2 separate regions of the Homo sapiens genome follow, and region 1 is linked to region 2. A link means that fine-mapping ties the variant in region 2 to the expression of a gene that starts in the linked region. Tissue or cell type: substantia nigra. Region 2 holds a variant in brackets; the other region holds the start of a gene. All regions are shown on one strand. Distances are from middle to middle.

Evidence for each region. PIP is the estimated chance that this variant, and not a neighbour inherited with it, causes the effect.
Region 1: it holds the start of RASL10A, and the variant in region 2 is fine-mapped to the expression of RASL10A in substantia nigra (GTEx, PIP 0.92).

What each region holds. Positions count from the first base shown.
Region 1 is chr22:29,312,415-29,320,414 of GRCh38, reverse strand. It overlaps RASL10A (RAS like family 10 member A), which reads left to right and starts at 4,718. Exons shown (of 3, transcript NM_006477.5): 1 at 4,718-5,387; 2 at 6,428-6,552; 3 at 6,847-7,482. The coding sequence starts at 5,169. The coding sequence ends at 7,114. It overlaps GAS2L1 (growth arrest specific 2 like 1), which reads right to left. Exons shown (of 6, transcript NM_001362985.3): 6 at 7,628-8,000. The coding sequence ends at 7,918. RefSeq lists enhancers at 4,722-5,526, 5,527-6,331.
Region 2 is chr22:29,280,433-29,288,687 of GRCh38, reverse strand. EWSR1 (EWS RNA binding protein 1) reads right to left here. Exons shown (of 17, transcript NM_005243.4): 6 at 6,131-6,298; 7 at 1,554-1,765; 8 at 1-82. Among named protein-coding and RNA genes, the nearest start is that of EWSR1, 16 kb to the right of the region's middle. The variant T/C (reference allele first, on the strand shown) is at 3,461.

The DNA of each region.
Region 1 (8,000 bases), 32 kb before region 2:
AGTGGTGTGATCATGGCTTACTGTAGCCTCGACCTCCAGGGCTCAAGCAATCCTCCCACCTCAGCTTCCTGAGTAGCTGGGACCACAGGTGTGCACCACCACGCCTAGCTAATTTTTTTTTTTTTTTTTTGAGACAGAGTCTTGCTCTGTCGCCCAGGCTGGAGTGCAGTGGTGCGATCTTGGCTCACTGCAACCTCTGCCTCCCGGGTTCACGCCATTCTCCTGCCTCAGCCTCCCGAGTAACTGGGACTACAGGCGCCCACCACCATGCCCGACTAATTTTTTGTATTTTTTAGTAGAGACGTGGTTTCACCATGTTAGCCAGGATGATCTGTATCTCCTGACCTCGTGATCCACCTGCCTCAGCCTCCCGAAGTGCTGGGATTACAGCACCCAGCTAGTTTTTTAATTTTTTTTTTTTTTTTTTTTTGAGACGGAGTCTCGCTCTGTCACCCAGGCTGGAGTGCAGTGGCGCAATCTCGGCTCACTGCAACCTCTGCCTCCCGGGTTCAAGTGACTCTCCTGCCTCAGCCTCCAGAGTAGCTGGGACTACAGGCCCCCGCCACCATGCCTGGCTAATTTTTATATTTTTAATAGAGATGGGGTTTCACCATGTTGGCCAGGCTGGTCTCAAATGCCTGACCTCGTGATTCCCCTGCCTCGGCCTCCCAAAATGCTGGGATTACAGGCGTGAGCCACTGCACCCAGCCAATTTTTAAAATTTTTTCTAGAGTCGGGGTCTCACTGTGTTGCCCAGGCTGGTCTGGAACTCCTGGGCCCAAGCGATCCTCCCGCCTGGGCCTCCCCAAGGTGCTGGAATTACAGGCGTCAGCCACTGCACCCAGCCCAAGGTGCAGAGAATTTAAGTAACTTGCACAGATGACACAGCCCTGGAAGGAGGTTTCAAACCCAAGAAAAGAAACTTTCAGAGGCTTGGAAGCCCAGCCCTGCCCAGCCTCCTTGTGTCCTGATGGCTGGAAGACCAGCCCAGCCCTCAAGAGGCTGCCTGGCTGTGATTAGTGGGAGTCATCATGAGGATGTCCAAGGACCCACTACACCCCAAGCATGTGAGCTGTGGAGGATCCCTCCATTCGTGGGTCCAGGAGGTGAGTTACTGGTGGTGTGGAGCCATGATTCGTGGCCAGGACAGACCATAATTAGTGGTGACTGGTGTGGCCTAGCAAAGGAGTCCAGAACTAACACCCCCTGGGAGCTGGATGCAGTCTTGGGTGCCTGACTTCAGGGATGGGCTGGAATCAGGCCCAGTTGGGAAGAAACACATGGGTGAAGGCCAGGTAGCTGGTGTTAGGAGCCTGTGGGCAATGAACTGGGGAAAGCAGAATTCCCCACCTGGTGCCTGCCCCTGCCCAGCCCTCCCCACTATCTGTGGCTTGATCCTTCAGGGCTCAGTATAAGCCCCTCAACTCCCGCTGGACTGGTGCTTACCCTAGGCCTCCTCATCTCCCCAGGCCTGAACCAGCCCAGAGCTCCTGTCTTCACCCGTCCCTGCCTAGCTGCATGTCTGTCTCTTTCTCCCTGCCACAGAGGGTAGGCAGGACCACCTTGGCCACTGTGTGCCTAGTGCCAGTCCCCTCTGCTGAAGGAGAAGATGCATGCATAGTTGGCAGGTGGTCCCTGGAGCCCTGGATAGGGGCATTCAAGGAGTGCCCAGGAGGCCCCTGGGGAATAGGGATTGGAGGGGGGCAGCAGGCAGGAGGCCTACAGCCTTTCCTTGGGGAAGGAATGAGGGGACTGATGAGAGAACCCTGAAATCCACATCCCAGGCAGACAGGCAGCTTCAGCCCCCCAGCCTGCTGGTCTTTAGGAAGCCTGGCACAGGGCTGCACACTCCCATTAGAGCTCATTTCAGCCCCTGTGGATGGGGGGCTCCACGGGACCTAGAGGCCTCCCCAAGTCCCTCCCGACAGGGGGCTGAGTGGTCACTGGGGGCTGAGCTTCAGTTGAGTACTTCCTGAGAACCCTCTGGGTCCAGATGAAGCCAGGCTTCTCAGCCAGGCTCTGGAGCCCAAGGGCCTGGGTTCCGGCCCCTGTGCTGCCATTTTCCTGCTAGGCAACTGTGGCCCAATCATGGCGTCCCAGGGAGCCTTAGTGAGCATGAGGCTGTGGGTCAGGCTTGGCACATCGCAGGCCCTTGATAAATGGGCACTGCTGCTAGGAACGCTGCTGTGAGAGTCTCCTAGGGAACATGGCACGTTTGCAGGGCTTCATGGGAGCCTCAGGACGTTCCCAGTCCACAGTGCCCCTTCCCCTCGCCATCCAAAAACACATACTGGGAGCCAGAGACGCCTCACACACAGCTCTGTTTGCAGTGTCGGAAGGAGAAGCAAGGAAAGTTTTTCAGAGAAAGAATACCCAGGGGTGGGCGGGAGTGCGCCTAGCATTGAGAACACCTTAAAAAAGACCGTCCTGGCCGGGCGCAGTGGCTCATGCCTGAAACCCCAGCACTTTGGGAGGCTGAGGCGGGTGGATCACCTGAGGTCAGCAGTTCGAGACCAGCCTGACCAATATGGTGAAACCCCGTCTCTACTAAAAAACACAAAAATTAGCCGGGCATGGTGGCATGTGCCTGTAGTCCCAGCTACTCTAGAGGCTGAGACAGGAGAATTGCTTGAACCCAGGAGGTGGAGGTTGCAGTGAGCCAAGATCGCACCACTGCACTCCAGCCTGGGTGACAGACCGAGACTCCATCTCAAAACAAACAAACAAAAGACCGTCCTGGTGTCAGCTTTTCAGACTTCTGGGTTTTGTTGTTGTGTTGCTGAGTGCCTTGTTATTTACTCCTTGCCTTGTTCCCCGAAGGAATTGAAGCAGCTCACAAAACCCAGAAGCCTGAAAAGTCAAAAACCCAGAAGTTTGGCCAGATGTGGTGGCTCACGCCTGTAATCCTCGCACTTTTGGAGGCTGAGGAGGGAGGATTGCTTAAGCCAGGAGTTCAAGACCAGCCTGGGCAACATAGTGAGATTCCACCTCTACAAAAAATAAAAATAAATCAGCTGGATGTCGTAGTACACACCTGCAGTCCCAGCTATTTGAGAGACTGAGGCAAGGAGGATCACTTGAACCCAGGAGGTTGAGGATGCAGTGAGCTAAGATCACACCACTGCACTCCAGCTTGGGTGACAGAGCAAGACCTTGTCTCAAACAACAAAACCCAGAAGTCTGAAAAGTTACAACGTGAAAGAGGACATCAAGTGAAGGGAAAAATCATGGTAGGAAAGAAAGATGAAGCCAGCAGTCCCCACTCACTGAGCTAGAAGACCTGGAACACTAGACAGAGGTGGTTCTGAGCTTCCTAGTGGCTGAGGAGAGGAGTGAAAGCGGACCCCAGCCCCCGATCTAGCATGGGAGGATGAAAGCACAGCCATTGTTCTGGAGACACTTTCTGGTTGTCATTATACAGGCTCCCTGGAGGATGTGCCTCCTCCCCCTTCAGGATTTAGCTCCTCTACTTCCCCTGGGCTGGTGTGGGCACATTGTCTGTGCTTTGACAGTCCCTAGATCCCATGTGTTCTAGAACCTTCTCTCCCAAAGCAGAACTTTTTTTTTTTTTCCTGTTTTCTGTTTTTTAAATCTATCTCAGCCTCCTGACAAGCAATAAGATTTGGAATATTTGTTGAGGGGATAAATAAATGAACTCCTTAGTCAGTGCAGAGATCTGTGCATTGCGGCCATTTCTTGAGCATTGCCGCCATTTCTTGAGCATTGCCATGTGCAGGTCAGAGACGTGGGAGCCCCCACACAGCGGGGAGGAGAGCAGAGGCGGAGGATGGGGGGGCTGGGCTAACCCAGGCTTTCCAAGCTGTGATGGGGCAGGAGCTTCTCCACTAGCTCGAGGGAGGGGGAACTTGGGCTCTGGGCGCCTGTTTTGGAGGTTGCATCCCTTTGAGGGGCGCTACGGGTTGCAACTCACGCAGGAAAGGTGACCTTAGTAGTGATGGAGGTGGAGTGGGCCAATTTCTGGATCTTTATTTAGTCACCTCCAGCCTTGCTGGGACAGGGATCTGGGGCTAAGCTGCTGTGGTCTCGGCACCCTCTGTCCCCACTTCCCCTCGAGGACGGCTGTTTGAATATTGTCTAGTGTGGGCCATTTACCCCCGTGGGCAGGAGGAAGGTAGGAGGGACTTCAAAGGAGACTTCAAGGGCCCCCCCACTGCCCTTCTAACCTTGCAGATTCCCCTCTCGGGCCTGTTTCCTCTTCTCTCAACCAGCGATGCCAGGCTGAGGCTGTAGGTTCGAGAATCACGTAGGTAATGGGCCTGGCACATAGTAGGCTCTCAAGAAAAGGTTGGAGCCTCTTGAGGAGTCTGCCTGTGATGGATGCGGAGCGCAGACCCAGCGCAGTGCGGCGATTCGCCCAAGGTCACACAGCCGCCCCCCCCAATTCGGACCCCGGGCGGCCTGACTCCGGGGGCCGGGGCTTGTCGGGAGCCAGCGTGGGGGCGAGCAGTGTTTGGAAGAGCGGCCGCGGCAGTGGGTGGGAAGGGGCTTCTATTTTGGAGCGGGTGAGAGGAGCGGGACACGCGGAGGAGGTAAGGAAGGGGTAGGCCCTCTCCGGGATCTCTGTCCCCCAGTCACCTTCCTGCGACCCTTCCTGGGAGGGGCGTCCTGGGCGGTGGGGGAAGGTGGGAGGGGCGGGCGGTTACCTCATCGCCGCCTCCGGGAGGCCCCGCTCGCTCGCGCCGGCGGCTGGGGCGGCGACTCCAGGCGCGGAAGCGAGAGAAGGATAGAGGCACAGAGGCTCCGGGAGGCAGCGCTGCCCCCCGCGCCCCGCACCGCTGCGGGACCCGCGCCGCGAGAGGGGCGGACTTCGGCGCCTCGCGCGTCCGCCGGCGCCTGGGTTGGCGCTGCGGGGCGGAGGCGGTGTCTGAGCGCCGCTCCGGCTCTGCTCTCTCTCGAGCTTCGGCACCCGCCCGAGCCGCTCGCGCGCCCGCCACCTGTCTGCCCACTCGGCTGTCTGTCTGCCCTCCCGCCGCCAGCTCCTGCCTCGGGCCTGCCCTCTCCGGTCTCGGTGCTCCGAGGGGCGACGAGAAGCGCGACGGGGCCGTGGCGCACCGGGCAGGGCGCGCGGGGCGCACGGCCTGGGGGCGCACGGTGCGGCGCCGGCCCATGAGGCTTTCCAGCGCGGGGAGCGACAGCGCCGGCCGGCCATGGGGGGTAGCCTGCGGGTGGCCGTTCTAGGCGCCCCGGGCGTGGGCAAGACGGCCATCATCCGCCAGTTCCTGTTCGGTGACTACCCCGAGCGCCACCGGCCCACGGACGGGCCGCGCCTCTACCGACCCGCGGTGCTGCTCGACGGCGCCGTCTACGACTTGAGCATCCGCGACGGCGACGTCGCTGGCCCCGGCTCGAGCCCCGGGGGTCCGGAGGTAGCGGCTCGAGGAGCGGGCAGGGGCGTGTGACAGTGTGAGGGGTGTGCGTGCTCGGTGCACACGTGCGTGTCCGCGTGGAGGCCTCGGGCGCCTGGCTGTGCTCCGGGATGGAGGGATGTGTGTGCGTCCTGGGATACTTGCGTTTCAGCCCTTCCCGCCGACCTGGAGACGCCCAAGCCCAGGCTGGAGGCCGGGCGATTTTGCCCAGGGGCGTTCCCTTGCTCCTGTGAGCGCCTCCACCTTTGCCTGCCTCGGCTGGGGGTGTGGAGCAGCTCTTGGTGGTGCATAACGGTGCCTTCCCGAGAGTGTGGCGTTTTGTGTTTGGGGCCTTGAGCAGAGCTACAATGGGAGAGACTGGGGTCAGGAGCAGGGGTGTACTTTCTACGGGGGCTGGTGGAGGGGTTCATTCTCTGCCCTATCATTTTTGTCCCCTGGAGCGAAGACTCGTTTAGTAATTTGTGCAAAGTAAAGGACAGACCTCCGACCCTAGAGCAGTGAAGAGGAAAGAGCAGGCAGGATTAAGCAGGGCTTCCTGGAGGGAGTGGCATTTGAGCTGAACCTGGAAGACCGAGTGAAGTTCTGAGTAAAGGAAGTGGCAAAAACATACCAGGTGGAAAGACCAGCAGGTGCTTACGCTACGGTCATAAACGGTTACAGCTGACAATCTGGGGGCGTGGTGGACCACGGGACTCGGGCCAAGGGCTTTGGAATTAGTCTTAGAGGCCGTGGTAAGCACCGAGAGCATCTAGGGAGGAGAGCGGCCTGAGCCGAGTTGGGGAAAGCTGAAAAGAGGAAGATTCGGGGTAAACAGAGGGGAGACCAAGGATGAAGGAGGCTGGCTGACAGGCTCCAGGCACGATTTGGAAAATTTTACCCTGGTGGTCATGAGGAGACGGCCCGGAAAGCTTGGGGGAGGGGCACAGAGGTCTGTATGGGGGTGATGTTGGCCTGAGGATTAGCGTCCAGGCCCCTGCAGAGGGTTCGAGAGCGGAAGAGTGGAAAGGAGGCTTCCGCAAACCCTGGCCTCCTGTCCCCAGGAGTGGCCAGACGCTAAGGACTGGAGCTTGCAGGACACGGACGCCTTCGTGCTCGTCTACGACATCTGCAGCCCGGACAGTTTCGACTACGTGAAGGCCCTGCGGCAGCGCATCGCGGAGACCAGGTAGGGGCCCGGCAGTTCTGGCGGTGGGGAGCTAGGACAGGTCTGGCAGGGCCTTTGCCTGAGGAGAGTGTGTAGGGTCTCCCAACGTCGTGGGCCGGGTCTTAGGCCTTCGCCCGTGGGAAGGTCTTAAGCTGTATGTGCTCTTTGGCCCACATGGGCCTGGGGTTTCGTTGGGGCGGCGGGGGGGGCGGTGTCTCTGGCCGTAGGAAGGGAATGCGCCTGCGTGTGTATACCCACTGGGGGAATTCTCCGGCCGTGGGGTCCCCGCGTCTCTCATCTCCATTCGGCCCCCAGGCCGGCGGGCGCGCCCGAAGCGCCCATCCTCGTGGTAGGCAACAAGCGGGACAGGCAGCGGCTGCGCTTCGGACCGCGGCGCGCGCTGGCCGCCCTAGTGCGCAGGGGCTGGCGCTGCGGCTACCTCGAGTGCTCCGCCAAGTACAACTGGCACGTGCTGCGTCTCTTCCGCGAGCTGCTGCGCTGCGCTCTGGTGCGCGCGCGCCCTGCACACCCGGCCCTGCGCCTGCAGGGGGCGCTGCATCCCGCGCGCTGCAGCCTCATGTGACCCGATCGGACAGTGCCATCCATGGGCCCCACCTTGTGACTGGGACAATCAGGGACCTGGATTGGACGGGATCGCCCAACTTCACTGGGACTGGACAGGGAAGTCTCCGCCCTGATTGGATGAGGAAAGCTCCAACCCAGTCTCCTAAGCGACTGGCCCCCTTTTGAACCTCATTGGACCCAACCAGGTCCCAAGCTCCATTGGAGATGACCAGTCCTTTCTGGGACCTCAATGGGTCACAATCCCATTGGATGGAAAGGACTTGGCTATGAACTTGACTGGAAACACGCAGCCTGCTCCTGGAGCTTCACTGGACATATTCTTTATGCCACACCTACCACGGGATAATAAAAGGGAAAATAATTTGAGTGCGCCTGGGATTTCTGGGCTGGGCGGGATAACGCCTTAAGCCTAGAGGTCAGAGTTGCCAGGCTTGGCCTCCAGGCAGTTAACTCCAGGGTCCTCGAAAGGGTCTGAATGGCCCCAAGGTGGAGTCCCCAAGAAACAGACAGGTGGCTGGAGCAAAACTTTACTGTCAGAGGCTCTGCTGGGCCACAGGTCTTCAGAACACCGGGCTCGCCCGGCCTCCTCTAAGGCATTCAATAATATTAGTAATTAAATAGCAACGCTCATCCCCCAACCGGAATGTACAACAGAGGTCCCATTGTGCCATGTGGTCCCAAGGGGTCTGGTCCCATGAGGTCTGGTACTCAAGAGGCAGAGGGGGCTCCCTGATGCAGAAGGGTTAAGGCCACAAAGGAAAAGGAGAAGGGATGGGGTCTGGGGACAGCTGAGCTGGTCCATCACATCCAGGAATCTGGCTCAGCCCTCGGGGTGACTGAGTGCAGGGCATGCCATGTCCCCAGCTCTGCGGGTCCGGAGGGGC
Region 2 (8,255 bases):
CGGTTCTCTCCTGGTCCGGAAAATCCTCCAGACTCCTGCCCATAAACACCCATGCTACTGGGGTGGTCCTGTCGGAATGAACCTGAGGAAAGAGTCACATCTGTAAGCCATGGACCAGCATTTACACCACTGCCTGATGTACTTTCTCCTGGAATCACAAAATCCTCAATTCCAAGGCACTAACCAAGGCACCATCTTCTTTACATCACGATAAAGCATCCTTAATAGGTAGGCTCTTTTAAGTTCAACAAAACTGCTGGATCATCACAGCTGAAATAACCTTATATAGTTAGCCTATAATAAACCTCTTCTAAATAACAACAACAAAAAAAGCCCTCTGGCTAACATATAGTTTATAGGGTTCTATATCCTAAGATGTCTCCAAAAGCAGCTTCTTTTGAGCTAAACTCAAGAAATGAAAACAGAGCCAGGTTTCTTAGGGCTTTAGCACACTGCTAGGGGCTGAGCTCCATAAATCAACACTACTCCTTTGAGTTGTTGAGAAATCCCCGTGGATAGAATGTAATTTAAAAAGAGCAATGATCCTAAATTCTGAAGATAATTATGTGTTTTGGTTACCTCTCTCCATACAGAAGAACTGCAAATATTCTGTGAGGAGGATTATTTTTCCCCCTTTCCTTTTCTATTTTCTTAAAGAATCTTTATTTATCTTTAAAAAGACAGGGTCTCACTATGTTGCCCAGGGTGGTCTCAAACTCCTGGTCTCAAGTGATCCTCCTGCCTTGGCCTCCCCCAAAGTGCTGGGATTACAGGTGTGAGCCACCATGCCTGGCCATTTTTCCCCTTAATGGATATAAACAAACAGCAACAAAAAAACATAGCTTTTACTTGACTATCAAAATCATAGTGGCCTGCAATAGCTGCCTCCCCACTTTACATTAATGACTGATAGGGAGGCCAAAAACGATGTTGAATTTACTCACTGCATACAACTTCCCCAAAGACAGCAGGGCTAGCAGTCTAAAACATTTTTTCTGATCAATTAGTATCTCTTTTCTTTTTTGCCAAGGCATACTAAAAACAAATTGGAAAAAAGCACTGAAATCTTCACTGGGGCATCCAAGATGTTAGCTGGAATGCCATGCCCTAAAGATGTGTCCTGGATTCCAAAAGCAAACAATGGCAAAGAGTATTCCCCCTGTTCAAAAACTCCAAACGTGGCTGGGCGCAGTGGCTCATGACTGTAATCCCAACACTCTGGGTGGCTGAGGCGGGAGGATCACCTGAGGTCAGGAGTTCGAGACCAGCCTGACCAACATGGTGAAACCCCGTCTCTACGAAAAATACAAAAAATAGCTGGGCATAGTGGCAGGCGCCTATCATCTCAGCTACTCGGGAGGCTGGGGCAGGAGAATTGCTTGAACCAGGAGGCGGAGGCTGCAGTGAGCTGAGATGGCACCACTGTACTCCAGCCTCAGCCCCAAGAGTGAAACTCCATCTCAAAAGAAAAACAAACCAACAAAAAAAATCAACCCCACAAAAAAACTCTAAACACATTCATTCTTATTTGGTTTTCTCTCTTAGCAACTCACTCTGCTGCCCGTAGCTGCTGCTCTGTTGGCTATATTGACTTGGAGCTTGGCTGTAGGATCCAGTTTGGGGTGGGTAACTAGTGGGAGGCTGCTGCCCATAGCTGCTTTGTTGACCATAGCTACTCTGCTGTCCATAGCTGCTCGGTTGCCCATAGGTGTTCTGCTGAGAGTAACTGCTCTGATCATAACTAGTCGGCTGTGTAGAGGAATAGCTGAAAGAGAGAGAAGAGAAAAAAAAAAAAGCTTTTTTAGAAAGAGGCTTGTTATTTCAAATCCCCTGAATAAAAGAGACATTCACACCATGTGACACAGACATCCATAAAACAGTAGTTACTTTCTACACATCAACAATTTGAATTTCAACTCAGCAAATACTTTTGTGTTCAGAATAAAACATTAAATGGGAGGGTAAAACAAAAAAATTTTTTTTTTTTTTTTTTTTTTTTTTGAGACAGAGTGTTGCTCTGTTGCCTAGGCTGGAATGCAGTGGCGTGATCTCCGGTCACTGCAAGCTCTGCCTCCCGGGTTCATGCCATTCTCCTGCCGCAGCCTCCCGAGTAGCTGGGACTACAGGTGCCCACCACCACGCCTGGCTAGTTTTTTTGTTTTTAGTAGAGACAGGGTTTCATCTTGTTAGCCAGGATGGTCTCCATCTCCTGACCTCATGATCCGCCCACCTCGGCCTCCCAAAGTGCTGGGATTACAGGCATGAGCCACGGTGCCCAGCTGGGAGGGGGAAATATTATAACCACCATCTGTATAATCCTTAAAGAGTTTTCTCTTAATCGCCACTCCCATTTAAAACAATGGTCATTTTCAGCTGGGAGCGGAGGCTCATGCCTGTAATCCCAGCACTTTGGAAGGCTGAGGCTGGGGGAATGGCATGAACCCGGGAGGTGGAGTTTGCAGTGAGCTGAGATCCGCTACTGTACTCCAGCCTTGGCGACTCGGGAACAGAGTGAAGATTCCGTCTCCAAAAAAAAACCCAAAAAATCAGGCCGGGTGCGGTGGCTCACGCTTGTAATCTCAGCACTTTGGGAGGCCGAGGCAGGCACATCATGAGGTCAAGAGATCGAGACCATCCTGGCTAACATGGTGAAACCCCCATCTCTACTAAAAAATACAAAAAATTAGCCAGGCCTGGTGGTGGGCGCCTGTAGTCCCAGCTACTGGGGAGGCTGAGGCAGGAGAATGGCATGAACCCAGGAGGCGGAGCTTGCAGTGAGCCGAGATAGTGCCACTGCACTCCAGCCTGGGCGACAGAGCGAGACTCCGTCTCAAAAGAACAAAACAAAACGTCATTTTCAACTATATTCAAGGCAGGCAAATATGGGAGTTTAGATGCTTCCTGTATTGTGGCAAGAATATGCACTTGGGGAAGGCTGACCCAGTGAAATGGGGACTGAGAAAATATAGAGAGAGTGAAGTGAGGCATTCAGTTCCAAGCCTGCCCGCCAATAATCTCGAGTTAACGATTTTCTGAAGGGATAAGGGTACTCAACACAAAAATAGTAGTTTTCCCTCAAAGATTTGTCTTTGCTACTTTCAATCTTTCAGACATGCCTGATTAACTATGAAATCTGAGTATTAATAGAGGAAACTTCAGAATGAAGGAATTGTATGAAAGACAAATATTAAGATTATGTCAATTACATGGGAGAAATTAATAGATACATTCTTGCACAGAAATGAAGCTTGAAAAGAACTGGTATTGGCCAGGTTTGAAGGCTCATGCCTGTAATCCCAGCACTTTGGGAGGCCAAGGCAGGTGGATCACCTGAGGTCAGGAGTTTGAGACCAGCCTGACCAACATAGTGAAACCCCACCTACTAAAAATACAAAAATTAGCTGGGTATGGTGGCACACGCCTATAGTCCCAGCTACTCGAGAGGCTGCGGCAAGAGAAC[T/C]GTTTAAACCTGGAAGGCAGAGGCTGCAGTGAGCCAAGACAGCGCCACTGCACTCCAACCTGGGCAACAGAGCAAAACTCCATCTCAAAAAAAAAAAAAAAAAAACAAGGGCCAGAAGCAGTGGCTCACACCTGTAATCCCAGCACTTTGGGAGGCAGAGACGGGTGGATCACCTGAGGTCAGGGGTTCGAGACTAGCCTGACCAACATGGAAAAACACCGTCTCTACTAAAAATACAAAATTAGCTGTGTGTGGTGGCACATGCCTATAATGCCAGCTACTTGGGAGGCTGACGTAGGAGAATCACTTTAACCTGGGAGGCGAGGGTTGCGGTGAGCCAAGATCGCACCATTGCACTCCAGCCTAGGTAACAGGAGTGAAACTCCGTCTCAAAAAAACAAAACAAAACACACACAAAAACAAAAAAACCCATCTGGTATTAAGCTTTACAAATCATGATGAGAAACAGTAAGGACACATATTTTAAAGTCCGATTAAACTAGGCCAGGAAGTTCGAGGCTACAGGGGGCTACGACTGTGTCACTGTACCCCAGCCTGGACAACAGAGTGAGACCCGGTCTCCAAAAATAAACAAACAAACAAAGCTTCTAACACACCACATCCCTCACCATTGCTGTATGAATTCAATAATCTCTCACTGTGTACCTATCCAACTTGCCAGATTAACTGCTATTAACTGCTCTCAATGCAATAGGTACGAACCTGCTCTGTGGAAGAAGGGTTGTAAGCCCTACCCACTTTTGCTCCAAGCTGGCTGTATGGAGAGACACCCAATCAATTCTACTTGTTCCTAAACCTGTTCACATCTGCTGCAAAACAATGAAATGAGTGCAAAAAAGGGAACCGCTACTTCTAGCAAAACTTTCAGGGCACAATTCAAACAATTTGAAAACCCACATCTAATTAAACATGGGTTAAGAAAACTTGCAGGCTGGGCATGGTGGCTCACACCTGTAATCCCATAATCCCAGCACTTTGGGAGGCCAAGGTGGGCGGATCACTTGAGGCCAGGAGTTCAAGACCAGCCTGGCCAACATTGTGAAACCCTGTATCTACTAAAAATACAAAAACTGGGCCAGGCGCAGTGGCTCATGCCTGTATTCCCAGCACTTTGGGAGGCCGAGGCAGGCGGATCACCTGAGGATGGGAGTTCAAGACCAGCCTGACCAACATGGAGAAACCCCGTCTCTACTAAAAATACAAAATTAGCCGGTTGTGGTGGCGTCTGTATCTAATCCCAGCTACTAGGGAGGCTGAGGCAGGAGAATCGCTTGAACCCAGGAGGCAGAGGTTGCGGTGAGCCAAGATCACGCCATTGCACTCCAGCCTGGGCAACAAGAGCAAAACTCCATCTCAAAACAAACAAACAAACTGGCTGGGCGCAGGGGCTCGCGCCTGTCACCCCAGCACTTTGGGAGGTGGAGGCGGGTGGATCACCTGAGGTCAGGAATTCCAGACAAGCCTGGCCCACATGGTGAAACCCTGTCTCTACTAAAAATACAAAAAAAAAAATTTTTGCCAGGTGTGGTAGTGAGCACTTGTAATCCCAGCTACTCAGGAGGCTGAAGCAGGAGAATCACTTGAACCCAGGAGGTGGAAACTGCAGTAAGCCGAGATTGTGCCATTGCACTCCAGCCTGGGCAACAAGAGCGAAACTCCATCTCAAAACAACAATAAAACAAAAAGAAAAGTTAGTCAGGTGTGGTGGCATGCACTTGCAGTCCCAGCTACTCGGGAGGCTGAGGCATGAGAATCCCTAGGAGGCAGAGGTTGCAGTGAGCGGAGATCGTGCCACTGCACTCCAGCCTGTGCAACAGAGTGAGACTCTGTCTCAAAAAAGAAAACTTGGCCAGGCGATAATAATAAAAATAAAATAAAAAGAGTTGGCCCATACATTAAAAGGTTAGTGCATGAATAAACCTTTATGTGTTAGGTAAAATGTAAAATGATTAAGGTGAATTATAATGCCCTGCGCTTTACTTATCCTAACTGCATTGGGGAAGATGGCTCTTACATCTATTTACATGCTTTCATATACTTCTGCTTCCCATCTGAGTTAACTAAAACAGCAAAAGGAAGAAACTTAAAGAAAGAACTTAGAGTGGTAAAAATGTTTTTGTATTTAGAAAGAATAGTTATTAGCTGGGCCGGGTGCGGTGGCTCACGCCTGTAATCCCAGCACTGTGGGAGGCCGAGATGGGTGGATCACGAGGTCAGGAGATTGAGACCATCCTGGCCAACACAGTGAAACCCTGTCTCTACTAAAAATACAAAAAATTAGCTGGGCGTGGTGGCGGGCACCCGTAGTCCCAGCTACTCGGGAGGTTGAGGCAGGAGAATGGCGTGAACCCAGGAGGTGGAGCTTGCAGTGAGCCGAGATCGCGCCACTGCACTCCAGCCTGGGCGACAGAGAGAGACTCCGTCTCGGGGGAAAAAAAAAAAAAAAGAAAAAAGAATAGTTATTAGCTGCCAGGCAACACTATGGGACCCTAGATCTCAGGCTTTAATGTAACCAAGTATGGTCAGATGACTTATCACTGCGACAGTCAGATAACATACCTTAGCTGAAGAAGTCAAAGCAAGCTGGTCAACAACCTGAAAAAAACTGTTTTGTCACTGTTTTTGTTTTGCCACAAAAAGTAGACTGACCTGGTAGGAGGGTAGGATGGAGGTGCAGTGACTGGCTGCATGGGGTAGCTCCCAGGTACCTGGGGATAACTGTAGTTACTCTGTCCATATCCTAGGCTGGGCTGGTTGTAACCCCCTGTGCTAGATTGAGGTTGACTAGTCTCAGTGGGCTTGTTTCCATCCTGCGGTCTAAGAGGAGAAATAATAAATAAAATTAAAAAGTGACTTTTTTTGTGTGGTTGGTCAACCACAAAACTCCTGGGTAAGAATGCTACAAAGCTACGAGCAATAAGCAATGTTATGATTAAGCCTGGAAATAAATACAATAATAAATACAATCCTAAAGTAAACTACATCAAACTCAGTGTCGGTCCAACTATATTTGCTTGAAGACAACACTAAGGAAGGGGGAGAATCAATCATATCCACAGAAGAGACATTAATATGCTCCATTCATCACAGTAAACGCTATAAAAGTGCGTTGCGATATTGTGTGCTACCAGTTTAGGTGATCCGGGAGAAGTGATCTGTTAGGGAATAAATGCTTTTTCTCAAAGGGGACTGCTGAAGACCAGAAACTAACAATAATGTTAAGTTTTAGGTTGAAGTAACATTTACGTAAGTCCATGGCATCATAAATTTAGAGAATTTGTGGGTTTATGTTTCTCATTTATTAAAAACAGACCAGGTCAAGGCCAGGCGAGAATGGCTCATGCCTATAATCCCAGCACTTTGGGAGGCCGAGGAGGGCGGATCACGAGGTCAGCAGATTGAGACCATCCTGGCTAAGACAGTGAAACCCTGTCTCTACTAAAAATACAAAAAAAAAAATTAGCCAGGCATGGTGGTGGGCGCCTGTAGTCCCAGCTACTCAGGAAGCTGAGGCAGGAGAATGGCGTGAACCCAGGAGGCGGAGCTGGCAGTGAGCCGAGATCGCGCCACTGCACTCCAGCCTGGGCGACAGAGCAAGACTCCGTCTCAAAAACAAACAAACAAAAAAAATCCCAGCACTTTGGGAGGCTGAGGCAGGAGGATGGTTTGAGCCCAGGAGTTTCAGACCAGCCTGGTAATATAGGGAGACCCCACCTCTACAGAAATAGAAAAATATTAGCCAGGTATGGTGGTACATGCCTGTGGTCTCAGCTACTTGGAAGACTGAGGTGGGAGGGACTGCTGGGGCATGGGAGGTGAAGGCTGCAGTGAGCTGTTAGATCGCGTACTCCATCCTGGGCAACAGAGAGACTCCATCTCAAAAAAAACAAACTGCCAGGTGCGGTGGCTCATGCCTATAATCCCAGCACTTTGGGAGGCCAAGGCAGGTGGATTGCATGATGTCAGGAGTTGGACACCAGCCTGGCCAACATGGAGAAACCCCGTCTCTACTAGAAATACAAAAAATTGGCTGGTAGCGGTGGTTCACACCTATAATCCCAGAACTTTGGGAGGCTGAGACAGGAGGATCACGAGGTCAGGAGATCGAGACTATCCTGGCAAACACAGTGAAACCCTGTCTCTACTAAAAATACAAAAAATTAGCCAGGCATCATGGTGGGTGCCTGTAGTCCCAGCTACTTGGGAGGCTGAGGTAGGAGAATGGCATGAACCTGGGAGGCGGAGCTTGCAGTGAGCTGAGATGGCGCCACTGCACTCCAGCCTGGGCGACGGAGCAAGACTCTGTCAAAAAAAAAAAAAAAAAAAAAAAAAAAAAAAAAAAAACAACACACACACACACACAAAATTAGCTGGGCAGAGTGGCGGGCACCTGTAATCCCAGCTACTCAGGAGGCTGAGGCAGGAGAATCACTTGAACCCCGGAGGCGGAGGCTCCAGCGAGCCGAGATTGTGCCATCGCACTCTAGCCTGGACAACAAGAGCAAAACTCCATCTTAAAAAAAAAAAAAAAACCAACCAAACCATCCAACCAACCAGAAAAAAATCATTTCCTAAACTGGGCTGCCATAAACTAATCTAACTTGGCTCAAAGTCTCCGTAATGGAAACACCAGAGTAAGGCAAAGAGACCCCTCCCAAGTCCCTGCTCAGATGAACCTGGAAGTAAGTATCCCTGTTAAATGACGAAAATTAATCTCAGTTCCAAGGAAAACTCCAGGGGTTTCTATTACCTCTTGGCCCTAACACTTTACATC